Homo sapiens: one gene and its partners. The protein of the gene in region 1 interacts with the protein of each later gene in a pairwise test. Each region holds a gene or a part of one and is shown in the gene's direction. Other genes may lie near its edges.

Region 1 (5,793 bases):
TAAATTAGCTGGGCTTGGTGTACTCCTCTAGTCCCAGCTGCTCTGGTGGCTGAAGTGGGAGAATTGATTGAGCCTAGGAGTTCAAGGTTACAATGAGCTATGATAACTCCACTGCACTCTAGCCCAGGCAACAGAGTGAGACCGTGTCTCTTAAAAAACAAAATAGGCTGGGCGTGGTGGCTCATGCCTGTAATCCCAGCACTTTGGGAGGCCGAGGTGGGTGGATCACAAGGTCAGGAGATCGAGACCATCCTTGCTAACATGGTGAAACCCCGTCTCTACTAAAAATACAAAAAATTAGCCAGGTGTGGTGGCGGGCACCTGTAATCCCAGCTACTCAGAGAGGCTGAGACCGGAGAATGGCATGAACCCAGGAGGCAGAGCTTGCAGTGAGCCAAGATTGTGCCACTGCACTCCAGCCTGGGTGACAGTGTGAGACTCCATCTCAAAAAAAAAAAAAGGCCAGGTGCAGTGGCTCACGCCTGTAATCCCAGCACTTTGGGAGGCCGAGGCGGGCAGATCACAAGGTCAGGAGATTGAGACCATCCTGGCTAACATGGTGAAACCCCGTCTCTACTAAAAATACCAAAAAAAAAAAAAAAAAAAATTAGCCGGGCGTGCTGGTGGGCGCCTATAGTCCCAGCTACTCGGGAGACTGAGGCAGGAGAATGGCATGAACCCAGGAGGCGGAGGTTGCAGTGAGCCGAGATCGCGCCACTGCACTCCAGCCTGGGCGACAGAGCAAGACTCTCTCAAAACAACAACAAAAAAAACGAAAACAAAAGGCGGGGTGCTGTGGCTCACGCCTGTAATCCCAACACTTTGGGAGGCTGAGTTGGGTGGATCACTTGAAGCCAGGAGTTCAAGACCACCCTGGCCAACATGGTGAAACCTCATCTCTGCTAAAAGTACAAAAATTAGCTGGGCCTCCCAGGATCAAGCGATTCTCCTTCCTTAGCCTCCCAAGTGGCTGGGATTATAGGCGTGAGCTACCACGTCTGTCTCTTTTCTTTTTTTTTTGAAACAGAGTTTCACTTTTATTGCCCAGACTGGAGTCCAGTGGCACAATCTAGGCCCATTGCAACCTCTGTCTCCCAGGTTCAAGCGATTCTCCTGCCTCAGCTTCACAAGCAGCTGGGATTGCGGGCGCGCCATCCCACCCAGCTAATTTTTTGTATTTTTAGTAGAGATGGGGTTTCACCATGTTGTCCAGGCTAGTCTTGGAACTCCTGACCTCAGGTGACCCACCTGCCTTCGCCTCCCAAAGTGTTGGGATTACAGGTGTGAGCCACCGCACCCAGCCCTTTTTTGTTTTGTTTTTTTTTTTAAACAGGATATCCTTTTGCCAGTCCTGACATAGTTTGTTAAGAGAGACAAACCTATCCATTAAAATCTCCTGTATTAAAAGCATGGTCTCTGGAGCCATACTCTCATATTAGCTGTGTGACTTTGGACAAATTACTTAACCTCTCTGTTCCTCAGTTTCCTTATCTGTAAAATAGGAATAATGATACACTTATTGCATATGGTTGTTTTGAGGATTAAAAGAGTTAATTGGTGGCCGGGCTCCCAGCACTTTGGGAGGCTGAGGCAGGCGGATCACGAGGTCAGGAGATCGAGACCAGCCTGGCTAACATGGTGAAACCCTGTCTCTACTGAAAATACAAAAAATTAGCCAGGCGTGGTGGCACACACCTGTAGTCCCAGCTACTCAGGAGGCTGAGGCAGGAGAATCGCTTGAACCCGGGAGGCGCAGGTTGCAGTGAGCCGAGATTGCGCCCCTGTACTCCAGCCTAGGCAACAGAGCAAGACTCTGTCTCAAGAAAAAAAAAAGTTAATCGGTATAAAGCACTTAAAATAGTCTGTGGCCACATAGGCAGTGTTACGGAAATGTTTGCTTACACTTATTTTTGTTTCTGTCTTCATTTAAGGAGCCGTGTAAAGCCAGTGGAATATAGTCAGATGTACAGTTATAGCTACAACCAGTATTATCAGCAGTACCAGAACTACTATGCTCAGTGGGGCTATGACCAGAACACAGGCAGCTACAGCTACAGTTACCCCCAGTATGGCTATACCCAGAGCACCATGCAGGTAACCATGACTTGGCAAGACTGGTCCCCTTGGGTTGTGTTTCTCCTCTAGAAACAGGTCATTCTCTAGGATGGGATTGGTAAGGACAGGGGCTTGGGCTTCAGAAAAAATAGGGAAAGTTGAAGCAGTCCAGTTCCTCTTGTTAAAAATAAGCCATTGTGGGTAGGGCCCAGTGGCTCACACCTGTAATCCTAGCACTTTGAGAGGCCGAGGCAGGTAGATCACCTGAGGTCAGGAGTTCAAAACCAGCCTGGCCAACATGGTGAAACCCTGTATCTACTAAAAATACAAAAAATTAGCTGGGCATAGTGGCAGGCGCCTATAATCCCAGCTGCTCAGGAGACTGAGGCAGGAGAATCTCTTGAAACTGGGATGCGGGTGTTGCAGTGAGCCGAGATCACGCCACTACACTCTAGTCTGGGTGACAGAGCTAGACTCCACCTCAAAAAAAATAAAAAATATAAGCCACTGTGGTCCTGGGCCAGGATTTCACCATGCCCCTAACCCACATCTCTGGTCTCTTGGCAGACATATGAAGAAGTTGGAGATGATGCATTGGAAGGTAAGGGTTCATACGTTCCTTACTCTGTCAGCCATTATCAGGTGACTGCTGTGGCTGGCACTGTGCTCTCAGCTAGAGGGAAGACAAGATAAATTCTGCTCTGGAAGAACTTACATTCTGGTTAGAGAGCCAGACAAATATGTAATTATGGTAAGATGTGTCGGGTGTTACCCAGAGGTGTAAGTGTAGATCCCAGAGAGCCTGGGACAGGCAGCTCCAGGAGAGCCCATCACCCCCTTGACATGTGGCATTCTATCCTGGTATGTGGGCCTCTAACGATAATACTGTTACCCTTTTTTTGTGTGTGTGTGTGGTGGAGTTTCACTCTTGTTGGCCAGGCTGGAGTGCAATGGCATGATCTCAGTTCACCGCAACCTCCACCTGCCAGGTTCAAGCAATTCTCCTGCCTCAGCCTCCCGAGTAGCTGGGATTACGGGCATGCACCACCATGCCCAGCTAATTATTTTGTATTTTTAGTAGAGACAGGGTTTCTCCATGTTGGCTTGGCCGGTCTCAAACTCTCAGCCTTAGGTGATCCGCCCGCCTCAGCCTCCCAAAGTGCTGGGATTACAGGCATGAGCCACTGTGCCTGGCCGATAATACTGTTACCTTTTATTTGTTTGACTGTTTGTAAAATTCATTTTTTATTTATTTTATTTTTTTTCTGTTTTTCAATATATTTTAAAAGACATATTTTCCTGATTTTTAAGTCATCGTTAGGATGGAAAATTTGGAAAATATAGTAAAGTATGGGCCAGGCATGGTGGCTCACGCCTCTAATCCCAGCACTTTGGGAGGCCGAGGCAGGTGGATTGTGAGGTCAGGAAATCGAGACCATCCTGGCTAACACGGTGAAACCCCGTCTCTACTAAAAAATAGAAAAAATTAGCCGGGTGTGGTGATGGGCGCCTGTAGTCCCAGCTACTCGGGAGGCTGAGGCAGGAGAATGGCGTGAACCCGGGAGGCAGAGCTTGCAGTGAGCCGAGATCGCACCAATGGGCTCCAGCCTGGGAGACAGAGCGAGACTCCGTCTCAAAAAAAAAGAAAAAGAAAATATAGTAAAGTATAATGAAACTGAAAATCACCCCATATCCTATTACAACATAGTAATAGCCATTATTAATTTTTTCTTTTTCTTTTTTTTTTTTTTTTGAGGCAGAGTCTTGCTGTGTCACCCAGACTGGAATGCAGTGGCGCAATCTCATCTCACTGCAAGCCCGCCTCCCGGGTGCAAGTGATTCTCCTGCCTCAGCCTCCCGAAGAGCTGGGATTTCAGGCACATGCCACCACGCCCAGCTAATTTTTGTATTCTTAGTAGAGACGGGGTTTCACCATCTTGGCCAGGCTAGTCTCAAACTCGACCTCGTGATCCGCCTGCCTCGCCTCCCAAAGTGCTGGGATTACAGGGGTGAGCCACCGTGCCCAGCCCATTATTAATTTTTTAATTAAAAATATTTAAGCCTTGCACGGTGGCTCACCCCTGTAATCCCAGCCCTTTGGGAGGCCAAGGAGGGTGAATCATGAGGTTAAGAGATCGAGACCATCTTGGCCAACATGGTGAAACCCCGTCTCTACTAAAAATAAAAAAATTGCCAGGCGCGGTGGCTCACCCCTGTACTCCCAGCACTTTGGGAAGCCACGGCGGGAGGATCACCTAAGGTCGGAAGTTCTAGACCAGCCTGGCCAACATGGTGAAATTCTGCCGGTACTAAAAATAAAAAAATTAGCCAGGCGTGGTGTTGCGCGCCTATAATCTCACCTCCTCAGGAGGCTGAGGCAGGAGAATCACTTGAACCCGGGAGGCGGAAGTTGCAGTGAGTCGAGATCATACCACTGTACTCCAGCCTGGGCAACAGTGCAAGACTCTGTCTCAAAAAAAAAAAAAAATTATCCAGGCATGGTGGCCCATGCCTGTAATTCCAGCTCCTTGGGAGGCTGAAGCAGGAGACTCACTTGAACCCGGGAGATGGAGGTTTCGGTGAGCCAAGAATGCTCCATTGCAGTCCATCCTGGGTGACGAGAGTGAAACTCCGTCTCAAAAAAAAAAACAACAGTATTTACTGTCTAGGCACGGTGGCTAAAGCCTGTAAGGTCTTTGGAAGGCCAACGTGGGTTGGAGGATGGCTTGAGCCTAGAACTTTGAGACCAGCCTGGGCAACATAACGAGACCCCATCTCTTTTTTTTTTTTTTTTTTTGGGAGACGGAGTCTTGCTCTGTCACCCAGGCTGGAGTGCAGTGGTGCAGTCTCCAATCTCAGCTCATTGCAACCTCTGCCTCCCAGGTTCAAGTGATTCTCCTGCCTCAGCCTCCTGAGTAGCTGGGATTACAGGCATGCACCACCACGCTCGGCTAATTTTTGTATTTTTAGTAGAGACAGGGTTTCAGCATGTTGGCCAGGCTGGTTTCGAACTCCTTACCTCAAGTAATCCTCCCGCCTCAGCCTCCCAAAGTGCTTTGATTACAGGCATGAGCCACTGTGCCCGGCCAAGTATTTATAATTTTCACTGAATTTCACAGAAGAAAAAGGAAAGAAAAACTGAAAGCCAAGCATGGTGGCCTGTGGTTCCAGCTACTTGGGGGAGGCTGAGGCAGGAGGATTGCTTGGGCCCAGGAGGTTGAGGCTTCAGTGAGCTGTGACTACAGTTGTGCCCCACCATAACTGGCTATTTTTTTCTATTTTTTTGTAGAGGCAGGGTTTCACCATGTTGCCCAGGCTGGTCTTGAACTCCTAGGTTCAAGTGATCTGCCCATCTCGGCCTTCCAAAGTGCTGGCATTATAGGCATGAGCCACTGCTCCTGGCCAAAACTTTTTTTGAGGTACAAAAAGACTCAAAGTTTGAAATCTGTTTTGAGGATTCGTCTTCAAGAGAAAGTCATAGGGAAAATGTTTTCTGTCAAGAAAATGTTCGTTAAAGGAAACAGATCCCTTTTAGGGCATGAACAAACTTGTCTAGTTCATAACATTTTAAAGCACTTTCTTGTGTCCTCTCATGTGATGCCAACTGTAGTGACCTTGTGGGGTGGGCTGGGAAGGACACAGGAGCTCCATTTCACAGATGGGAAACTAGTGGCTCGGAAAGCCCAAGTGATCTGCTGAGGGTCACACAGTGTGGGGCAAAGTCAGGACAGTCCGGTC
Region 2 (5,793 bases), on another chromosome or scaffold:
CTCCATTTACCCTGATGTGATTAATATGCATTATATGCCTGTATCAAAATATCACATGTACTTTATATATACATACACCTACTGTGTGCCCACAAAAACTTAAAAAAAAAAAAAGAAATATCGTGACTGGATATTGCACTTAAGATCTTGGGAGTCCACTGCATGTGAATTTTGCTTCCATTTTTTAAATGATTCTTGAATATAGGGCAAATACTTAGGAAACCAGAAGCTATGAGATTGCGGATAATCACTTGAGTTCAGTATTACAAAATATGATTTTAATGACCCATTTTACAAATGTAAAAGTTAGTGTTCTGTCTCTGTAGAGTTGCTCATTCCCGATCAAGGTTCTGCAGGATACTTTGTGAACTATCTGGAGTTGACATGTACAACTTCAGGATGCCCTGTTTGATCAGTTGTAATTTTTGAGAAAAAAAGAGGTCAGAAAAACTGGTCTGAAGACTGGCTCATAGAAGCTCTAGAGCCTCTAGACTGTAGAAGAAACTTAGTTTTCTCATCTGAACTTATATTTGAAAAAGAGGTGATATATACCTTCAACAGTGTTTAGGCAGGTACGTACTACCAAATCTCATTGTCAAAACCAGGACAGTAACATTGAAATAACCACTTCGATGTGAAAGTAATTCTATAATTAACCCTGTTGTCTCTTCTTTTTTTTTCTTTTTCTTTTTTTTTTTTTTTGAGACAGTCTCGCCCTGTTGCCTAGGCTGGAGTGCAACGGCGCGATGTCGACTCACTGCAACCTCCGCCTTCCAAGTTCAAGCGATTCTCTTTCCTCAGCCTCCTAAGTAGCTGGGATTACAGGCACCTGCCACCACGCCCAGCTAATTTTTGTATTTTTAGTAGAGACAGAGTTTCACCATGTTGGCCAGGCTGGTCTCGAACTCCTAATCTTCATGATCTGCCCACCTCAGCCTCCCAAAGTGTTGGGATTACAGGCGTGAGCCACCACACCCGGCCAGTGAACCCTGTTGTCTCTTAAGACACACAAGATCATGCCCTGTGAATACAGAGTGGAGGGGAGTGGTCAGGACATGAGGGTGAAGCCCATCCTGGACTGAGACCACCTAGAATCAAATTCCAGCTCTGCCAACTAAATCCTGTGCATTTCTGGGAGGCATTAGTGTACCCTGCCAAAATGTGGCTGTGATCTGGTGTAACATACCATCACCTCCAGCAACACCATATGGCAGACTACACCAGGATCTCCTCCTATGCCACTCTTATTTTTATTCTCTTAGGGTGATCTCTCCTGTTTTCATTATCCTGCACCCTGCACATTACACAAGTGTGCACACACAGTGGTAATCACACACATTTCTTCCATCTTTTTTCTCTGTGGTTTTCTCCCTTGTTTGACACTCCATTGCCAAATAATGAATAGCTATTTTGCTATCCAAAAGGAGCAGTTCAGTGCCAACATGTTTTCAAGCACCTGCCCTTCTGCAGGAAACTCGTCTTTCGTCTTTATTTCCTCTTTGTTGGAAGTAAATTTGCCCTCTTATTTGCTGACATTTTCAAACTTGTACCACTTCTTTCTCGCTATGGTAGATGACTGGAGGTAAACCTACTGCTCTTCTTTTTCTTTTTTTATGTAGAGTATAATTTATAATACTTTTGGTATTCCATTTTTATATATAAATTTAAATTTGAAACTTTTGATAAGTTTTAATTTTCAAATGACTAGTTTTTAGCAAATAAGTTGAAGTTTTATTATAATGGATTTGATTCTTCTTTTCCAATAGTAGCTTACTTATTTCGTTTTTAACAAATAATTTCTGTGTCTTTCTAAGATCATACTTACTTTTTGTTCATCTTTGTACAAGTTGATAGGAGTCAAATTCTACAGGCATGCCAGTATCCACTCCCTGTAATCTTCTGCAAAGTAGGTTTTTAAAAAGTTGGCAGTAGCACATCAAAACATTGTCTTTATGTTTCACTCATATTTTTCTTTAATTCTTGTGATTTACTAAAAGCTCACTGAACAGTTCTGTTTACTATATATTATAGTATACCATTCACCATTGTAATGCCAAAAACAGAATTTTGTGTGTCATTACAGCTATAATAGAAAGGAGCACTGAGAAGCCTGTGTCCTGGTCGTCCTTCCCGTTTTATGAATCAGAGAGGAACAAGACTATGTCAGAAAATTGTTGCATTGTGTTACTTTCATTGTAAATATCACAAAGTCATGTAAAGTTACTGGGATTCGATGATACATAAAAGTGGGGGGCAGTTAGTTCTATCTCTACACAGACTTTGATAGATGGACCCTCATCTACTGCTTGCTTTGACTGTGGCTAAAGTTTATGTTGGACTGAGACATTTGGGATTTGGAAATAAAGTTAAAGACTTCTCATACCAGTCACTTATAAGTTCTAGTAAGTAACTTGGGGGTGGCCGTGGGAACATGGGGTTAGGCAGTGGTAACAAAGAAATAAGCCCTATTCTCATGGAGCTTACTTTGGGAGTGGTGATACTCAACAGACTGTAATTTGAAGTAGAAGCAATTAACTTTGTCGATAGGTTCTTGGAGATACAACTTTAAACAAAATGAGTATATTGCAGCCTCTTTTTTCATCAATGTTATAATGAAACCATGTTGAAAGCAGTGGCATTATTTGAGGACCTGCTGTCTGTCGTTTCACTTAAAGTTAGTTTTAAAGAATGTATTGACCACATTAAGTGAGGATCTACTGTAATCTAGGGATGGCCCCTGGAGAAGGAAGGTAGCATTTAGGTTGAAGTTTGTGGGGATGGGGATAGGTAGGATTTGGAAAGAGAGAGGGGCAGAGAGTGCGCAGGGGAGCACTTAGGATGGAGGAAGTGGGAATATGCACAGAGATGAATGGTGGAGAGCAATCTGGTTTGACTTAAGATGTTACTTACATACGTGTGTAAAGTAGTAGGTTAATGGGCTTAACTTGAGAGGATATTTTGGGACCAGATTATAGGCAACTAAAGTTTTTTATATTTTTAGATAGTAAGAAACCATGAAAGTGTTTTGAGACAGAATGTTGAGAAACATGATGAAAATTGTGATTTGGGCAATTAATCTGGCCTTTGTGTAGAGATTGATTGGAGAACAGACACCATTAGCAACATGTTTTAGTAGTTTGGGTGCTATGCCAAAAACAACTGGAACAGTAAATGGAAAGAGTGGGACCAATTCAAGGTAAATGGGGTGGCCAAACATTTTGATGATTAGAGACTATCCTGATTTAGGTTTGAAGCATGGTTATTATTAGTGCCCATTTTTGCTTTTAAAAGTTTTCTGCTTTGGACAATAAATCATATGGTGACCCTAAAGATAGATTGCTGTAGCATTGATAGCACTTGCTAATTAGATTGAAAGGAGACAGGGATGGTGGTGTAAGAGAGCAGAATATACGGTTTTTTAGAAGTTATTATTTCACTGAGTTTTCATATTTTGAAGAATTAAGCATAAAATTTCCTTACCTAAATTCTGTAATCAAATCTTGTATGTTTAAAATTATTTGTGTGCACATGTGCACGCGCGTGTGTGTATGTGTGTGTTTAACGAACACATTTGAGTTTTGGAATATTCAGCAAAATGATAGTTGCTGGCTGGGTGCAGTGGCTCACACTTGTAAACTTAGCACTTTGGGAGGCTGAAGCAGGAGGATCACTTGAAGCCAGGAGTTTGAGACCAGCCTGGGCTACAAAACGAGACCTTGTCTCTACAAAAAATAAAAAAAATTAGCCAGGCATGGTGGCGCGTGCCTCTAGTCGCAGCTACTTCGGAGGCTGAGGTAGGAGGATGGCTCGAACCTAGGAATTCAAGGTGGCTGTGAGCTAGGATCATGCCACAGCACTCCAGCCTGGGTAACAGAGCAAGACCCTGTATCTAAAAACAATAAAATTAATTAAAGTAATTTTAAAATGATAGATGCTGAAGAGAATATGTTATGTTTAGTCTTATCTCACATTTTCATTCATTTCTATTTAAAAGTAAAGCTTTTTAGGGGAACTTTAATAAATCGGTGTAACTGACAAAAAATTTACAAATACAATATGCTGTATATCAACATGCCTTTACTGAGAAAACAGAGAAAGCAGGCTCCATTATGTTAGCACCTTTTGGTTCTTGATCTTTTTTTCCCCTTATTAAAACAGGTGACTGTAGTCACATGATACTTACTTTAAGGCTTGTGTGTAGATATAGCTATTATATTTGTGGACAGTCTCAAATGCTTTCATCTCATGTGTTTTCCATGTATAGGCAGAAGGAGAAGACAGCCTGAAGAAGATGCAGCTGATGGAGCTTGCGATTCTGAATGGCACCTACAGAGATGCCAACATTAAATCACGTAAGAATGAGCTCTGAGGCCCAGGGTTACTGCTGTCTGCGTTGTTTTGTCTACAGACTTTTTTCCTTTTGGCAACACAATAATAGTTCATACAAAGTGAACAGTTGAAATAACTGTTCTGTCACTTGATATGGGGCTGACAGTCCTATTTTTAATGCTTTCATGAATTGAGGACACTCTTGATTTTATTTTATGTCAGCATGTTGAAGTTTTAGGTTGATAAACTTACATTATTTTAACAAAATCACAATCTCTAAATTCAAGTGTTTAAGAAATTTTCTGTTTGGTTAACTACAGATGTAGGGCTTGCAGCTTATCTTGTTAAATTTATGCAAAAGACAACATATTGAAAGCTTATTTTGAAAAAGTGAATTTGAAGTGTATCTGACTGAAATGACCCTCTGTTGAGTTCTGTCCTTTCACTTTGCTTGCATGTTTTCCCTCTAGTATTTTTCCCTGTTGATTTCATATGTGAGTTCACAGAGATCAGTGGGTGATAACTCTTTTTCCGTCCTATTTTTGTTTTTATGCGTATCTATGCATGTTTTTATAAGCCGTAAGAGGATAGCTTTTTTATGTTTAAAATGAAATAATGTGAAATTTATATTTTGAAACAATTTAAGATTCATACATGTCATTTATATGAACATACCATGTTTAAATTACTGATTATTTAAAACACATAGAATTTTTAAGTTCTAGCCAGATTTAGAAGATGTAGGCAACCTCTAGTGGGTTTAGAAGTAGTTACTTTACAAATTGTTGACATTAATTTACTCATGAAAATGTGAGTATATCATTAATAGGAATTTAGAAGTAGGGCTTTTTAAGATTTTCTGTGACGTTGGTTCCTAAAGATGCAGGAAATGTACATATATACCTAGTGGTTACTTGACTAAATGCAATAAAAATTATTCTTTCTTTACTTTGAAACTAAAGCTGTACTTTAGAAATATACCAAAACTGAGTTTCTGTGGACTCCGGTTACAAATTATTTTTTAACATCTGTTAATGCAAGTGTTTCATTGTGCTTCTGCATGTACTTTAGTCTTATGAAATCTTAGATATATCAAATGTATGAACTAAATATAACCTATTTAATGGTGTCATTCATTTTTTTACAATGGCTTTTTAATTTTTGCACATTCTTAATCACATTGGGAAAGGGAAAGCTGTTTGCATTTGATTGGTGTGCTTTTGCATTTTTGTGTGATCAGCGCATGTACTAATGATTTCCTTTTATTTTTCTTCTTTCCTGCTTTTCCTTTCTTTTTCCTACTCCCTTCTCATTTTTCCGTATTTTATACTGCTGTCTCTATACTTCTTTCTAAATTTCTTTGCTTACTGTAGCAGCCCTTGCCTTTTCTCTTGCAGCAACAGCCCAGGCTGCTCCAAGGATCATTACTGGGCCTGCGCCGGTTCTCCCACCAGCTGCCCTGCG
Region 3 (5,734 bases), on another chromosome or scaffold:
TCACGACACTGATGTTGTGTTTGCCAGGGTCACTGTCCACAGCACCCCGGTTAGACGCTCATCTGGGCCAGCACCACAAAGCCTGCTGAGCGCATGGCGTGTGTCAGCCTTGCCCACACCCGCCAGCCGGCGCTGCTCTGGCCTTCCACCGATGACCCCCAAAACGATGCCCAGGGCCGTGGGCTCTCCCCTGTGTGTGCCAGCTCGGAGACGTTCCTCTGAGCCCCGCAAGAACTCTGCAATGAGGTAAGACACGAAGGTGGTAATAAATTGGTCTCAAATTCCTAGGCTTGCTGTCCCAGACAGTGACATACCTTTTTCTTGCCTTGCTCCAGGTTTTAGTGAAGTAAATAGTATTTGGAAAGTTTGTTTGTTTTTTTTTTCATTGCAAAGAGAAAATGCAATAGACATGAGCATAGAGGAAAATTAAAGGTATTACAAGGAAATACTGCGTGTAATTCTCTGATAATCAATTTGAAAACCTAATGGTTTTCTAAAATTTGCAAGTTATTGGCCAGGTGTGGTGGCTCACGCCTGTAATCCCAGCACTTTGGGAGGCCGAGGCAGGCAGACTGCCTGAGCTCAGGAGTTTGAGATCAACCTGGGTAACATGGCAAAACCCCATCTCTACAAAAAATACAAAAATAAGCTAGGTGTGGTGGCGTGCACTGTAGTCCCAGCTATTTAGGGGGCTGAGGTGGGAGGATCACTTGAGCTCAGGAGGTTGAGGCTGCAGTGAGCTGAGATTGCCCCGTTGCACTCCAGCCTGGGGGACAGAGTGAGACCCCGTCTGTAAAAATTAAAATAAATAAAATAAATAAAATAAAATTTATCTAAATTGACCCAGAACACATGAAGTAAGCCATAGCTGGAGCTCAGAAATGATTAAAGATTGAAAAAGGCACCTGATTCCAATGAAGTCACACCTCAGTCGTGTATAACCTTTGAAACAGATCATGCTAGTGTGTAAAGTTAACTATCTTAGCCGGGCGCGGTGGCTCACGCCTGTAATCCCAGCACTTTGGGAGCCCGAGGTGGGCAGATCACGAGGTCAGGAGTTCGAGACCAACCTGGCCAACATGGTGAGACCCTGTCTGTACTAAAAATACAAAAATTAGCTGGGCATCATGGTGGCATGCGCCTGTAATCCCAGCTACTCAGGCGGCTGAGGCAGGAGAATCACTTGATTCTGGGAGGCAGAGGTTGGGGTGAGCCAAGATCGCACCACTGCACTCCAGCCTGTGCAACAGAGACCCTGTCTCAAAAAAACGAAAAACAAAACAAAAAAACATATATAATATCCGTGTATTTATACACAAATTACACATTTTTATATATCTTATATGTTTCTGTGTATGTACATCTACCAACAGTAGGTGTTGACACTGTGTGTATCTATGTAGTTCTATGATAATGCAGAAGACTCTGGAAGAAAATATGCTGGCATGTGTGTGCATTACAGAGGGAGAGGGAAAGGCATGGAATGCCAAAGAGAAAATGAGAAACAAGGCCTCACTGAAAACACCAGATCTGATATATAAATAGGAATATGTGTTTAACTATCTTGTATGTTTGTAAGTGTAAATGTAGAAACAAAATTCTGCTTGTTTTTGGAATTTTCTTATGAAACCTCTGAAGTATTAAAAAGAAGGTACTGTGTGTTAGTTGATGGACCTGCGGCTTTGCTGGGTTTCCGGAAGGAATTCAGTTTTGCGTGGCAGGTACTCGAGGACCTGTGGGCAGCAGGCAAGCCCAGCAGCGCCCGTGCAGGGTCCTGTGGGAGACGCCATTGGAAAGCTGGTGTGGGCAGCCTGTACCTGGGGCCTCAGCCCTGATCAGGGCACTGGGCAGCAGGGGAGGGGGCATCTGGGGCAGAAGGAGCCAGCTGCATACCCACCTAGGCCTAGGAGAAGCCCCCCACTAGCTGCATGCGAGGAGGAGCTGGCCGTGGCTCAAGGAGGGGTCCCTGTGTGTGGTCTGGGCTCCCTTCAGGAGGTGACGGGCGTGCGCATTACCTTGTGTTTAGTAACTAGAAAGGAAGGGGCTAACATCAGCCCCTGGTGATGCTGGACAGCTAAGATTTGTGAGCTGAGAGGAACTGGAGAGATCACTGAGCCCCTTCCATACACAGGAAACTGGGGGTCTGGAGGGTGAAGGCCCTAGAGCCGGGACGCACTCCACCCAGGACACTGTTCCTCCAGAGTGACTTGCTTCCCACATCAGCCAAGTGAACGAGCATTTTAGAGACATTTTCTCATAAGTTTTTTTCCTTCCCACAGAACTGAACCAACAAGGGAGAGCAACAGAAAGACAGATTCCAGGCTGGTGGATGTGTCCCCTGACAGGGGTTCTCCTCCTTCCCGTGTGCCTCAGGCACTTAACTTTTCTCCAGAGGAAAGCGATTCTACTTTCTCCAAAAGTACTGCCACAGAAGTAGCTCGGGAGGAAGCCAAGCCGGGTGGAGATGCAGCCCCTAGTGAGGTGGGCAGAACGGGCGCAGCTGGGTTCTGTTAGCTGAGATTCCTGGAGGCTGCTCGGGAAGCCCGTGGAACCCAGGGCTGTGGCTGGCGGAGTTCCCTGCCATGCTTCATCCTGGGGCCAGTGCCTCCGTGCCAAGCAACCCAAAGGGAGGCAGTCAGGACTTCCAGGCCTCCAGGGGAGAAAGCCCTGCATTTGACTAAGGCAAGGGTCAGGGATCAAAGCTGAGGAAGCGGGAAGCAGGGTGGCAGGAGCTGGTGGCTGCTGGTGAGCGGGTATGGACAGGGAGGTGGGCAACAGTCAGAGAGGCACGGCCCACCCCATACAGAGCCTCCTTCCACCAAGGCCCCGCCTGATTCCTTGGCTTTCCAAACCGCCAGCCCACCTGGAACATGAGCAAAGCTCACATTCTCCCAAGATGGTTGCCAGAAAGATGCTGGACTCTGCTCTTAACCTTGGTTTTGTACCCAGGCTCTTCTTGTAGATATCAAACTGGAACCACTCGCGGTCACTCCAGATGCTGCAAGCCAGCCCCTCATTGACCTTCCTCTCATCGACTTCTGCGATACCCCAGAAGCACACGTGGCTGTAGGATCTGAAAGCAGGCCTCTGATCGACCTCATGACAAACACTCCAGACATGAATAAAAATGTGGCCAAACCTTCACCGGTGGTGGGACAGGTGAGAAGTGGCAGGTGGTTCATGTTGACTCAGCCCTGGGTGTCCTCAGTTCTGGGATTGTTCATCCTCCCAGGGCCATCGTGGGACCCTTGAGAGTGGCTGTTGAGTCTTCTCAGCTACACACCTCAGGGCAGGATGCACCTTTGGCAGCCTGAGCTTCTCAAAGATCAGCTGCCTCTGAGGTGCCCTGCCAGGACCCTGCCAGCTCTTGTTGGACAGGGACCGCCTCTCTCCTGCCCATAGACCCCAGGGCCAGATGTGGGACAGAGGAATGTGCATGGTGGGGGCCTGGGCTTCTCCGTGTGTGTCCTGTCTCCTTCCAGCTTCTTAGACGTGGTGGCCCAGAGTGCTTTTCAGTGCACCCGAGCCAGGATGAGCGAGTGGCTGTGATGACCCACGCAGCCAGTCCTCTGTGCAGGGAGGGGAAGGGAGGCCCTAGCCGGATCCACGCTCACCTCCTCCACTCTGCTCTCTTCCAGCTCATAGACCTGAGCTCCCCTCTGATCCAGCTGAGCCCTGAGGCTGACAAGGAGAACGTGGATTCCCCACTCCTCAAGTTCTAAGCCGAACCAAATCCTTTGCCTTGAAAGAACAGCCCTAAAGTGGTTTTCAACCCTCAGAAACAAGCTTTAGGCTGGTCGCAGTGGCTTACACTTGTAACCCTAGAACTTGGGAGGCTGAGGTGGGCGGATTACTTGAGCCCAGGAGTTCGGGACCAGCCTGGGAAATATAGTGAAACTCCTGTCCCTACAAAAAATACAAAAATTAGCCGGGTGTGGTAGTGCATGCCTGTAGTCCCAGCTACTTGGGAGGCTGAAGTGGGAGGATGGCCTGAGCTCAAGGAGATGCAGGCTGCAGTGGGCTGTGATTGTGCCACTGCACTCCAGCCTGGGCACCAATGTGAGAACCTGTCTTGGAAAAAAAAAAAAAGAAACATGTTTTAGTAGAAGTTTTATTTGAAAAAGAAAAATAAGCATAAATATATTCCCAGTGCTGGAGAGGGTGGGCTGAGGGACTGGGGCCAGCACGGACCACCCAAGGCCTCTGCTTCCCGCCGCCACCCTCCTCGCTGCCATTCTCTGGGCTGGAATGTGAAGCCTCAGTCACTCTAAATGAAGAATTTTCTTTTGAATGTTTTGTATGTAAAATAGCAAGTGGCTATTTTTAAAGTTAAGTTTGTATAAATAGTTAGATATTCTAGATTTACATTAAATTGTAAAATAAATGGACTTATTGAAGCATATCTTGATTTTTAAGCTTATCTTGATTTTCAAACATGCATAGCTATTTTTATCACTCTAATCAGTAAGGCTACTATCTAGACTCGAATGCTTTCATACAAGTGATTTTCAAAAATTAGTCAATAAAAATTGATGTCAGTGCAGGCCCAGGCCCGCCCCCAGATACACTAGTTTCTAGGTCTGGGGCCAGCCTAGTAATTGTTACTAGGCACACAGGTGATGCTGACTCGATGGCCTGAGACACACCCCTTGAGAAGAAGCTGCTCTGGGGAGACGAGGGTATGAGTGGAAAGAGGATGGGCGAGGAGGCCGGGCTTACCTGGACACTAAGGTGATGGACGGCGTCTGCTGGGCAGGCCTCGGGGAGGACCCCTCAGCTTTGCTCTCAGCAGGGGCCCGACAAGCTCAGTGGGCAGTGGCAGGAACTGAGTGCCACTGGAAAGCCCATTCCCTTTATTTAGAAAACGAGCTCCAGGAAGCCGCTACTTTGTGTCCATTTCTCTTGAGGAAACTTACCACCTTGGTTGAGCGGCTTCATGGCAGACAGCAGCGAGCCAGCGGCCGGACTCTGTATTTCGGACCCCACTCCAGTGCTCCCTGGGTCATACCAGGATCTGCCTCTGTCCACAAAGATGAGGGAAAATGATGACTGTGCTGTGCTCTCTACTTCCTGCGGTTACTGCGTGATTCTAAAGCTGCCACTCGGAACAGCGAGTCCTCTGCCGTCGAGAGCAGGGAGGGGTAGGGTGGACAGGCGATGCCGTGGAAAGACGTCTCGGTGGAAACTGCCATGGTGGAAAGGTGGCGCGCTTCTCACGGCTGAGTTGCTGCGCCTGCAGACGGAAGCTCCCCACAGGCAGAGCTGCTTGGATGTGTGAGTCATGAAGCCAGAGAAGCCCCGCTCCATGAGCAGTGACTCCCCAGGTAAGACTTTCAGCCAGTCCTGCGCTGGCCAGAGTCGCCGGGCCCGTGGGAATCACGGCGGCTCCACGTCTCCGGGACAGCAGGGAATCCCAGGGGCCTGGTAGTGACACCGGAGGGTCCTCAGGGAACCTCTGGTCTGGCCCTCATTTCCCAGGGGTAGAAAAGGAAATCTGAAATTGGATTAAACCATGCAGCAAATATTTACTGAGGCTCTGCTATGGGTCAGGCTGTTTTCTGCTGGGTGCAGCGGGGTGCAGCGCTCAGGTACCCCTTCCCTCTTAGGGCTTCCCACTGGGTAGAGGAGGGAGATGTTCAGCTCCCAGCTCATCTGTAACCAAGCTGTGCCTCAGTTGTCTCCATTCAGGCCCTGGGGGTGAGCCCAGCCTTTGGCCTGTGGCCCCAATCCCGCT
Region 4 (5,793 bases), on another chromosome or scaffold:
CACATATTGTCCCACTGGAAGGTCTTCAGGGACAGTAACATGCGTGGAGCTGTCATCTCCTGTGATAACAATGCCTTATTCTGGAATCCCTCCTGAGGGACCTGCCTGAAGCTGCTTTATACTTAAGTTTTTCTTTTGTCGTTTTGTGTTTTTTTTTTTTTTTTGAGACAGAGTCTCACTGTGTTACACAGGCTGGAGTGCAGTGGCACTATTTTGGCTCACTGCAACCTCTGCCTCCCAAGTTCAAGCAATTCTTGTGCCTCAGCCTCCCAAGTAGCTAGGGGGCATGCGCCCCCACACCCAGCTAATTTTTGTATTTTCAATAGAGTTGGGGTTTTACCATGTTGGCCAGGCTGGTCTGGAACTCGTGGCTGCATCTGCCTGCCTCAGCCTCCCGAAGTGCTGGGATTAAGGCGTGAGCCACCTTGCCCTGGCCAAATTTTTCTTTTGTAAGTAGTGGGAGTATATACTCCAAAGATAAAAAGTATAATACATAAACAAGTGACATAGTTGTTTATTGTCATTACCGAGTATTATGTACAGTACATCATCGCATGTACTATACTTTTATATGCCTGTTAGCTCAGTAGGTTTGTTTACACTGGCATCACCACAAACGTGAGTAATCGCACCATGACATTACCAGTAGACAATAGGAATTTTTCAGCTTCATTACAATCTTATGGGGCTGTTGTATACGTAATCCATTGCTGATCAGACCATCATATGTGGCGCGTGACTATACATACTCCTAAATGTACAGTGCATTTTGGTTTTTCTGCATGATGGTCCAACCAGAGTGATTGATACTTATGGTCATTTAAACTTTATACTTTTACAAAGGAAGGTGAACAACACCGGTAAGAGTTACGGTGTTTTGACAACAACCTGTTGCATCAATAGCAATAGTCTTTGTACTCTGCAATTTTTGCTTGCATACTGGTCATCAAACAGTAACTAAATTTTTACTCTTACTTTTAATTTTGTAATTACAGATGGTTACCATAAGCGAACAGACAGGAAATCCAGAATCATTGCAAAAAATGTATCTACCTCCAAACCTGAGTTTGAATTTACCACACTGGACTTTCCTGAACTGCAAGGTGCAGAGAACAATATGTCAGAGATACAGAAGCAACCCAAGTGGGGACCTGTCCACTCTGTCTCTACCGACATTTCTCTTCTAAGAGAAGTAGTAAAACCAGCTGCAGTGTTATCAAAGGTGAGGTGAGGGTTTCTCTCTTTTTCTTTTTCCTTTGTACACTTTAAATTGTCTCATTTCAAACATTACACATTAAATCTTGCTGTGGGCTTTGATGTCCATGGAGCTGGGGAGGATGTATTGGGGGAAGCCTTTCATTGTGCACTTATATGACCTTCTTTGTTTGAACAGTTTATAATGAGGCTGTAACATCTAGTGCAGCTATTGTTTTATTTGTGCGTTTTGTTTTGTTTTGTTTTGTTTTTGAAACGGAGTCTCGCTCTGTCACCAGGCTGCAGTGCAGTGGCACGATCTCAGCTCACTGCAACCTCCGCCTCCCGGGTTCAAGCAATTCTCCTGCCTCAGCCTCTCGAGTAGCTGGGACTACGGGCGCACACTGCCACGCTGGCTAATTTTTTTTTTGTATTTTAGTAGAGACGGGATTTCACCATGTTGCCCAGGCTGGTCTTGAATTCCTGAGCTAAGGCAATCCGCCTGCCTGGGCCTCCCAAAGTGCTAGGATTACAGGCGTGAGCCACCCACGCCACTGTGCCCGGCTGTAGCTATTGTTTTAAAAGAATCACCTAGTATACCTTTTTTTTTGTGGGGAGGGAGTCTCACTGTGTTGCCCAGGCTGAAGTGCAGTGGCACGATCTTGGCTTCTTGGCTCACTACAATCCCCGCCTTCCGGGTTCAAGCAGTTCTCCTGCCTCAGCCTCCGGAGTAGCTGGGACTACAGGTACATGCCACCATATCTGGCTAATTTTTTTGTATTTTTAGTAGAGATGGGGTTTCACCATATTGGTCTGGCTGGTCTCCAACTCCTGACTTCAGGTGATCCACCTGCCTTGGCCTCCCAAAGTGCTGGGATTACAGGCTTGAGCCACCGTGCCCAATCTAGTATACTCCTTTTTATATGGTAGCTGAAAGGTATTGTGGTGCCTCAGAAGGAAAAGGTTGTAACAGAGTCAAGCCGCTTTGACAGCCCATTTTCAACACGCTACTTCTAACATGCTGATAGCACTTTTTCCAATATAGAAAAAAAAGACTTTTATAAAAATTGAAATACATTAAGTCCTCACATAATGTTGTCAATAGGTTCTTGGAAACTGCAACTTTAAATGAAAGGCTGTATAGTAGGTCCTCCAGTAACATTTTCTTCACCATCATTTCATTATGATGTTGATGAAAAAAGGAATTGGTTTTGTTTTATGTTGTTTTGTTTAAAGTCACAGTTTCCAAGAACCTGTCCATGGTACTGAGGACTTAACTGTAGTAATATTTAAAACTGCATAGTGTAACTTTTGAATTTTCCAGGCTTTTATTACATCTTTGTCTTGTTAATGATGCAGCAAATTCAGGAAAACTTATTACAGCAGGTTAATTCACTTTGTTCAACATTTGATCTCAGAGTTTTAGTCCACCAAGTTGAGGCATTTCTCTCAAATGGATTGATTTGAGACTTCCAGGAAGAAATAGTGTCTGGTTAGTAGTTCCTAAAATGGCTTCTGATGAATTTCCGCTGAAGGAGCAGTGGAGTACATGCCAGTACGAAGGCAAGTAGAAAGAAGAAAGATAAAGAAAACAGGCCTCACCCATTCGCTTTACCTCTTGAATTTAGAAAGGATTTGTTTCCTGCCCTTGGACTTCTGTTAGGTGCCTGGACACTAAGGCCTGAAGGCTCAGTGACAGTTGCTGGTAATGTGCAGAAGATAGGCCATTGTGTAGCAGTTTGCATGCAGGACCCTCATACAGTTGTACCCTCACACTGTTGTAGCATGGTGCTTTCCTGTCAAAGAGCTGGGAGAAGTCAGGCCAACTGATGGCTATCTAAAAATCATAGTTCCATCTGGCCTGCTCCAGGGGCTCCAGGCTGGGTTTGTGCGGTGGCTGAATAGCCACGGCGCTGCCGGTCTTCATCACGTACCGCTCTCATGAGTGCCCTGCAGAAGTAGTCCAGGATGCTGTGTAAGCCTCAGGGTCAGCTCGTGGAGTGAGCAGGAGTGTGACTGGGGCTTTATATCAAGGTCACTTGTTACATGTGACTGTTAATGTGTTTGAACATATGAAGTAAGATAGAAGATATACATACTGATTGCTCTATTAAGAGAGTCACATACACTCTTGAATTATGTGTGGGCTTTTTAAAAAGTTATTTTCCTTCTAAAAGAAACTTTTTCCTGATGATATTAGTAATGTCTGAAAATGACAAAAAATATATATATTTGTCTGAAATTGTACAACCAAAAGAAAAGCATGCTTAACACATAATCTTTTAAAAATAGTCTATTGTGGGAATTTCCTTCACCTTGAGATTATAAATACGTACAGTCTTACGTTTGAATTGTTTAAAACTTTGTTCGTATTTTTTCCATGTCATTAAGTATTTTTTGAAAGCAACTTGCATTGGATCTCTCATACTGATAGGTATAATTTATTTAACCATTCTTGAACAGGTAAGCTATTTCTAATTTTTTATTGGCCTTGGTGAGCATAAAAGTTATGTTTACTAAAAGAACAGGCTGTGTTTTAATATTATTTTTTATTCCTGGACTCATGTTATGAATTGACAAATGGATAAATTTGTGAAGCATATGAATTTTAAAAATTATTTTAAATCCATTATCTACTTAATGGATTCAACTTTGAATCTTTTAATTTACTTTTACCTCTGGTGTTAGTCACTTGGAGGAGCCTTTTAATATACTCGACCCCCCCATACACATAGCGTCATTATATGTCTTATGTTTAATATGTGAGACAGCCTTCTGTCTTCATAACACAGGGCATACATTGCAGGCTTACATTTGTTGTCTTTGTAGACATTTTGATGGACTGTTGAACTTTGGTGTGTGCCTAGTGAATGATGGCTTTTGCATTTACATGGGATCATTGCAGCTTTAAGAATTGTGTGGTGCATCTGTGCCAACTTGTAAAGCTTGTCAGTAGTATGTTAAAGTTTTTTTAAAAGTTGCCACAATACTATGTGTGGTGTGATTCCATTATGGGAATCCGTATAAAAATATGATACACAAATGTTTATATCATAGGCAAAGAAGTAGAAGGATACTAATGAAGCTATAGATGTGGGTGGTGTTTTCCTCTAGGGAGTGAGATTTGGTTGAAGGAAGTAATTTAACTTTTCACTTTATGTACTTATATATTTGGAAATTTTAATTAGCATATATTTTGCAGATTTTAAGAATGGCAAGGGAAGCTATATTTTAAAATTAAATGATTACTTTGAAATGGAAAGTAACTGCTTAGGCTTTTTTAAAAAAATAGATTTTATGTTCGAGAGCAGTTTTAGGTTCACAGCAAAGTTGAGAGGAAAGTACAGATTTCCCATATGCCCCTTGCCTGCACACACACACACACACACAGCCTCCTTCATTATCAACATCTTGTGCTAGAGTAATGCATTTGTTACAATTGATGACCTGCATTGACATGTCATCATCACCCAAAGCGCATCGTTTGCATTAGGGTTCACTGTTGGTGTTGTGTCTTCTAAGAGTTTGGGGAAATGCATAATGATGTGTGTCTACCATAGTAGTATGGTACAGAGTGGTTTCACTGCCCTAAAAATCTTCTGTGCTTCACCTGTTTATCCCTTCCTCCCCTCAGCCCCTGCTAACTACTATCTTTTTATTGTCTCCACAGTTTTGTCTTTTCTAGAATGTCATATAGTTGGAATCATATAGTATGTAGCCCACATCTTGGCTGCTTCCAAGTTGTGGCAGTTATGAGTAAAGCTGCTATAAACATCCATGTGCAGGTTTTTGTGTGGACATAAGTTTTCACCTCCTTTGGATAATTACCAAGGAGTGCAGTGGCTAAATCATATGGTAAGAGTATGGTTAGTTTTGTAAGGAATTGCTAAACTATTAAATATCTCCCAAAGTGGCTGTAACGTTTTTCATTCTTACCAGCAATGGATAAGGATTTCTGTTGTCAAAGTGTTCTGGATTTTGATATGTAGTGTTATCTCCTTGTTTTAATTTGCATTTCTCTGATGACATCTAATGTGTTTGCTTTTTAGGGTGAAATAGTGGTGAAAAATAACCCAAATGAATCTGTAACTGCTAATGCCGCTACCAATTCTCCTTCATGTACAAGAGGTAAAAGTGGCTGCAAAAATGTTAATTTTTAAAATGTCATAGATTTTTTAAGTTCATTTTTAACTCCAGTGCAGTTGAAATGATTTTTGTTGTAAAGACTTAAGACAGCTAATGAATTGTGGGTAACCTAACATCAGTGTTAGTTTAGAAAGTTAAGTAGATGAGATCCCACATCCACACACAAAGAGTATAAAATAAGAGACAAGAATTCTAAATGAAGTACACATCCAATTCAGTGAGAAATTTTATGAACTCAGCAGTAACTACTTCCTTTAGTATTGCCTATTCTCAAAAGTTTTTGAGACCTTTAAAGATTGAGAACCCCAAAGAGCTCTTGTTTATTTGGGTGATACCTGTCAACATTTGCCCTATTCAAAGTTCAAACAAATTTGCTTAAAAATAACAATAAATTAAGCGTATTGCATTTTAAGATAGCATATTTTTAGGAAAACCGTTTTTCAAAATTAAAAA
Region 5 (5,793 bases), on another chromosome or scaffold:
GGCAAGTCATAGATACATTTGGACGAGCCTTGAGTGTGTTCAGGAGAGCCATGGATGGGTTTGGGCAAAGCCATCTCTGCACCTGTTTGTGTTCCATGGTTTCCTTTTCCTCCTCTCCAGGCAGGGTTAACACAGAGTATCCCCATCCTGCGGCGGGACCATCACATCCAGAGGGCCATCGGTCTCTCCCCAATGTCCTTCCCCACCGCCGACCTTACTCTGAAGGTAACACCAGCCCTGAGCTGGGTGAGGGCCCACCCAGTACCTTAGCTTACAAAGAGGCAGAAGGGAGGAGTCCCCGAACCCCTAAAGCTTAGATTGGCTCTGTCCACTGCCAGCGTGATAGTAATTTTCATCCCTCCCCCTCCCCTTGCTTCTGAAGATGGAGTCTGCGCGCAAGGCTTGGGAAAACTCCCCCAGTTTGCCGGAGCAGAGCTCTCCAGGCGGCGCTGGCTCAGGCATCCAGCCTCCATCCTCTGTGGGTGCCTCCAGCGGGGTCAACTACAGCTCCTTCGGTGGAGTGTCCATGCCACCCATGCCTGTGGCCTCTGTAGCACCTTCTGCTTCTATGCCAGGTATCTCATCCCCTGAGCAAGGCCTTGGGGTCCTTCTCCATTTATTATCAAGAAAAACGGATTAACAGCCCCGAATGTCACCTCCTGGCCTTGTCTTAAGTAGCATGTAGAAGTAGCAACTTGTTTTTAGGCCCAGTGGTCGTAGCTCCCATGTGCTGCAGGTAATGTGCACGTCCTGCTTCCCCACGCTGGGAAACAGAACTGGGGGATAACAGCGAGGCACTCCTGCCTACTGGTGACAGGAGCGAGCAAAGGCTTGACTTTGAGTCAGACCTGGGTCATGTGCTGGAGCCGTGTCGCCTCGGCTGGTGAGCAGCTCTTGCCGAGCCACAGTGTCCTCTCCTCTCTTACATGAAACTCCGTGGGGTGGCCACACCCGTGAGGCCAGGTCTTACCTGGAAAGGGCTTTGTATCAACAGAGCCCTCAGTCACTGGCAGCTACTTTTGTCCTGATTGCTGCCATCCTTATCGTGTGCCAGTGTCCCCAAGGGGAAGCGTGGGGGTTTTGAGGGCCCAGCTGCCAGTCTCAGTGATGTAATTCCAATAGATCCTTCTGACCCTCCACTGTGGACTCAATAGCAGGGAGATGAAGAGGACAGTGACTGAGAGACCAAGGCAGCCCTGGTTAAAGTAGAATGCCCCTTCGAGTGTCTGGGGTAGTTGGTGAGTGGGAGGTGGGAAGGGTAGGCCAGAGCCCACCTGCCTCCTCCCTCCTCCTAGGTCTGACGCTGCACCCTCCCTACGTTCCCTGAGGTGCGTGCCAGGCGTGTTGTGAGCAGGCGTGTGCTTCCGGCACACAGGGAACCTAGCAGCCTCTGTACACACGCCCTCGTCCCCACTGAGTCCCCTGGGTAGAGCAGACCTGTAGACTGTTTCCCTCAGGGACATTGAGAAGTAGTGAGGCTTGATCCTCTTCTACGTCCCTTTTGCCGCTCTGTTTCCAGGCAGCCACCTCCCGCCCCTGTACCTGGATGGCCATGTGTTTGCAAGTCAGCCCCGGCTGGTTCCTCAAACGATACCTCAGCAGCAGAGTTACCAACAGGTGACAGCAGCTAGCCAGGTGGCCTGGCTGGGGGTGGTGGGGAGGAGCCAGTGCAGGGCGGAATTGGCTTGCTCATCTATTTCTCATTGTCTGTCTGGTTTTCCATCCCCCTCACATGTGGTGACCAGCACCTGGCCCGCCACGGCAGCCAGGAGGCATTTGTTAAGCGAATAATCGAGACAGGGAAGAGGAGTGGAGTTGGCTGCTCCAGACTCTGCTTAGTTTTCCTTTCTCAAAGTTCTCCCTCCTGTGTCCTAGCCGGGGAATTAGCTAAAATGGAATTTTCTTTGGTGATCAGGTATCCTTCTGATGAAGAGAAGAAAGGCCTAAACTCCCAGGCATGGATGCATTAGAAAGAGGTAGTCTTAGAAATGAGCAGGCGTTGGTTATTTATGCAGGACTGGCATACTTTCTGTGCTGCCAAGGGGTGATTTTTGGAAGTCTCCCCTCTAATGCTGGTGCTGGGCCTTTGGGATGGTCTAGCCGCCCCTCAGACCCATGTGCCTCCACAGCCACGACAGTGGACTTCCAGGCAGAATCTGCTCCAAGTGCAGGCTTGCTGATGGAGGATGTGGCCTCTGCTGACCTCTTTTTAAAAACATGTTCTTAACTGCTGTATTGTTTGGTTACCAAGATTTTGGTTCTTGCATAACTGGGTCAGACTGCATGTATCTTTCTTTTTGTGCATTGTTAAATTCAGCGTTATGTTTTTGGAACTCACCTCTGTTGACGTATGTGCTAGGATCCATTTTTGTTGCTGTGTAGAATTCCAGGGTAGGGATATGCTGTGGTTTGGGGTTGCTACCAGTTTTTCATTATAGGCTTTATCCCAATAGCAAGGGAAGCCCAGGAATGACATGCTGGCATTTGAATTTTGGGCAGTGTTCCAGCAGCCATGTGGAGAGGGGCAGGGGAGGTGGGAGGGGAAGAACCACCTGGATGGGCCTTGCGGTTACCTCCCCGACCCCGTTTTCCCGTTCACAGGCCGCCGCTGCCCAGCAGATCCCGATCTCCCTTCACACATCTCTGCAGGCACAAGCTCAGCTTGGACTGAGGGGTGGGCTTCCTGTGTCCCAGTCCCAGGAGATCTTCAGCTCCTTGCAGCCCTTCAGGTGAGCTCATGTACCAGCTTGCGGAGCTGGCAGCTCACAGCCAGGGCCTTGGCCCTGTGTGCAGCCTTCGTCCTGCAGCTGTTTGGTGCTTGTCTGCTTTGGGGCCAGTGGGGCGGGGAGGGGTGGGAGTTTGCTCTGAATCACTCTTCAGTCCGTTGTTAACTGTGCTCTAGGAGAGGCCTGGGGCGAGCTGATATGTGGTGGGCCGTGTTTTGCTTTTCCATGTCATCTTGCCTCCTTTCCTTGCTCCTTCCTCCTCCTCTCCCCTTGACTCCCTGTCTCCTCCCCACCGCGGGCTTCTCCGTCAGTGTGGCTGCCAGTCATTGTGGCTGATGTCCTGTGCCTCGTACAGCCTGGATGTCTTCACTTGTTTAATCCAGCAGCATCAGCGCCATCTAGGAGCTTGTTCTCAGGCCCCATCCTGGACCCTCTGAGTCGCGCTCTGGGGGTGGGGCCGGGGATCTGTGGTTTAGCAAGCTCTCCGGGGATCTCTGAAGGGTGGGACCAGATCCGCAGCTGGACTCATCCACCTGATCCCGACCATCTGTCTGGCTTTTGCAGATCTCAGGTGTACATGCACCCCAGCCTGTCACCGCCCAGCACCATGATCCTCTCTGGGGGCACAGCCTTGAAGCCTCCATACTCGGCGTTCCCAGGCATGCAGCCCTTGGAGATGGTGAAGCCGCAGTCTGGCTCACCCTACCAGCCCATGAGCGGGAACCAAGCCCTGGTCTACGAGGGCCAGCTCAGCCAGGCTGCTGGCCTGGGTGCCTCCCAGATGTTGGACTCCCAGCTCCCACAGGTCAGGAATTCAGTCACTCTACCCAAAGCCCTAGGCTTCTTTCCTTCACGACCTTGCCTTTTCTTTTCACCCGCCTCTCAGTGTGTGCTGGCCTATCGTGCTGTTGGTTGGTAGCCACCGTGCCCATTCCTCAGCGTGCAGGAAATCAGCCTCTTCTGAGTAGCCCCATCACCTTTTTTTTTTTTTGGACAGAGTCTCGCTCTGTTGCCTAGGCTGGAGTGCAGTGGCATGATCTCGGCTCACTACAACCTCTGTCTCCCACATTCAGGCGATGCTCCTGCCTCAGCCTCCTGAGTAGCTGGGACTACAAGTGTGTGCCACTGTGCCTGGCTAATTTTTGTATTAGTAGAGATGGGGTTTCACCATGTTGGCCAGGCTGGTCTCGAACCCCTGACCTCAAAGTGATCTGCCCGCCTTGGCCTCCCAAAGGGCTGGGATGACAGGCGTGAGCCACCACCCCTGGCCCCTCATCCATCTCTTTATTCTTGAGACCTGGCTGTCCCCTAAGCACTGCCTGCTCCTGCAGCCCCCAGACGGGGGCTCCTTCCTTTCTCCCTGCCCTTGTGCAGTAGGGTGTGGAATGGGTTAAGAGTCCTCTTTGTGTAGTTGTTGATGCTTCTAGACTCCTCTTCTTCCTTCCTCCCTGAAACGCCAGCTTTGAAGCCCACACCATAGACTGTGCCTGACAAGCCCTTCACTCTGCTATGGTGCCATCACCACATCCAGTGTCTGCTGAGAAATCTTCCTCTCCGTCAACCTGTGGGCAGTATTTGGCACCTTTGAAGGTCACCCTCCTTGTCTGGTCTGGCTTGCAGTCTGTCTCCACTCTCCTGTTCCAGTTCCTAGTGGTTTTGATGTCTGCAGAGATGACCCCGGGTCTCTGTGCCATGGACCCTGTCCATGCAGTTTGTGCCCTCCTCGCCACTGGTGCCCTTGTTCACATGGGCCCCTGCTCTGTGCACTCCTGTCTAGGCTTGGCTGCTCCCAGTAGCTGTGGCTCTCGCATAATCTCAACTCTCAGTGTCCCTCTCAGTTGTCACCTCTGGCTTTTTCAATTCACTCCCTCTAGTGACCCAACTCCAAAATTCTTTTTTTTTTTTTTTTTTGAGATGGAGTTTCGCTCTGTTGCCCAGGCTGGAGTGCAGTGGCGCAATCTCGGCTCACTGCAACCTCTCTGTCTCCTGGGTTCAAGCAATTATCGTGCCTCAGCCTCCCGAGTAGCTGGGATTACAGGCGCCCACCACCCACCGGCTAATTTTTGTATTTTTAGTAGAGATGGGGGTTTCACCATGTCAGGCTGATCTCGAACTGCTGACCTCAGTGAGCCACCCACCTTGGCCTCCCAAAGTGCTGGGATTACAGGTGTTAGCCACCACACCCAGTCTCTGCCACCCATGTTTTTGTCATCCTCCCCCTTGGCCTGGCTTCTTCCTCCCCATCAGCAGATCTGCCGAGCCACATGGCCTTTGCATTTCATCCAAGCTGTGGCTCCCAGTCAACCCCCACCCTCCTAGCAGCTTTTCAGACTTGCATCTTGCCCCTCGCTGCCTCCCACCCATGACCTCCCTTTCTGTGTCACCCAGGAAACAGGAGCAGTGACAGTCTCCAAGCCCCTGTGGCCACATCCCTGCCTAGGTGCTGCCTGTGCCCCTGGGGGGCCCTGCCCCAGCACATCTCCCTCTCTTTCATGCATCAGATATCCCTTCCCGTCAGTACACAGACGAGCTGCAGTGCTGACCCCGTAATCCCGCCCCCCACACCCCTCGAACCACTTTCTTCACCCAGTTTCCAGGCCGTCGCTCCTGGCTTTCCTGCTGCCTCAGGCCTCCTCCTCAGTCTCCTTTGCTGTCCCCTCTCCTTCCCAGTCTGTAATGGTCAGCATGCCCGTGGGCCCTGCTTTGGGTGTGTTTCAAGAGTCATGGCTCTAAATTCCTTCATCTTCTCCTCACTCCCAAATGGACATCTTTAGCTCAGATCTGTCCCTGGAATTGAATCTCAAATCCAATGGACTTTCCAGCATGTCTGCTATGGTGTCTTATGGCATCTCAAGACTCATCATATTCAAAACTCGATTTTCCTCCCGGTCCTTCTGCTTGTCCAGTCCACATCCTCCTTGGCTCCCTGCTCCCCCTCACCTCACCCCCTTACCCTTCAGCAGGCCTGTCAGCTCTGGCTTTAAAAGGATTCAGAATCCAGCTGTGTCTCATCCCCTCCACACCCCTGCATGCTGTCCAGCTCCTGTAGGGACTCCTACCTGGCCTC

What was found.
Region 2: the proteins of TRNAU1AP (region 1) and QKI interact in a two-hybrid assay, tested with the Homo sapiens proteins (one large-scale study listed by BioGRID).
Region 3: the proteins of TRNAU1AP (region 1) and GTSE1 interact in a two-hybrid assay, tested with the Homo sapiens proteins (one large-scale study listed by BioGRID).
Region 4: the proteins of TRNAU1AP (region 1) and SECISBP2 interact in a two-hybrid assay, tested with the Homo sapiens proteins (one large-scale study listed by BioGRID).
Region 5: the proteins of TRNAU1AP (region 1) and PRRC2B interact in a two-hybrid assay, tested with the Homo sapiens proteins (one large-scale study listed by BioGRID).

The regions. Positions count from the first base shown.
Region 1 is NC_000001.11:28,569,245-28,575,037, forward strand, and holds part of TRNAU1AP (tRNA selenocysteine 1-associated protein 1), read left to right. Parts: intron 1-1,931; coding exon 1,932-2,094; intron 2,095-2,622; coding exon 2,623-2,656; intron 2,657-5,793. UniProt on the Homo sapiens protein: Involved in the early steps of selenocysteine biosynthesis and tRNA(Sec) charging to the later steps resulting in the cotranslational incorporation of selenocysteine into selenoproteins. Stabilizes the SECISBP2, EEFSEC and tRNA(Sec) complex.
Region 2 is NC_000006.12:163,557,718-163,563,510, forward strand, and holds part of QKI (KH domain-containing RNA-binding protein QKI), read left to right. Parts: intron 1-4,264; coding exon 4,265-4,352; intron 4,353-5,702; coding exon 5,703-5,793. UniProt on the Homo sapiens protein: RNA reader protein, which recognizes and binds specific RNAs, thereby regulating RNA metabolic processes, such as pre-mRNA splicing, circular RNA (circRNA) formation, mRNA export, mRNA stability and/or translation.
Region 3 is NC_000022.11:46,326,409-46,332,142, forward strand, and holds the end of GTSE1 (G2 and S phase-expressed protein 1), read left to right. Parts: intron 1-27; coding exon 28-246; intron 247-2,279; coding exon 2,280-2,481; intron 2,482-2,949; coding exon 2,950-3,159; intron 3,160-3,638; coding exon 3,639-3,722; 3' UTR 3,723-4,402; downstream 4,403-5,734. UniProt on the Homo sapiens protein: May be involved in p53-induced cell cycle arrest in G2/M phase by interfering with microtubule rearrangements that are required to enter mitosis. Overexpression delays G2/M phase progression.
Region 4 is NC_000009.12:89,327,665-89,333,457, forward strand, and holds part of SECISBP2 (selenocysteine insertion sequence-binding protein 2), read left to right. Parts: intron 1-995; coding exon 996-1,222; intron 1,223-5,243; coding exon 5,244-5,322; intron 5,323-5,793. UniProt on the Homo sapiens protein: mRNA-binding protein that binds to the SECIS (selenocysteine insertion sequence) element present in the 3'-UTR of mRNAs encoding selenoproteins and facilitates the incorporation of the rare amino acid selenocysteine.
Region 5 is NC_000009.12:131,484,566-131,490,358, forward strand, and holds part of PRRC2B (protein PRRC2B), read left to right. Parts: intron 1-120; coding exon 121-225; intron 226-382; coding exon 383-575; intron 576-1,099; exon of another isoform or gene 1,100-1,185; intron 1,186-1,519; coding exon 1,520-1,617; intron 1,618-2,601; coding exon 2,602-2,729; intron 2,730-3,290; coding exon 3,291-3,531; intron 3,532-5,793.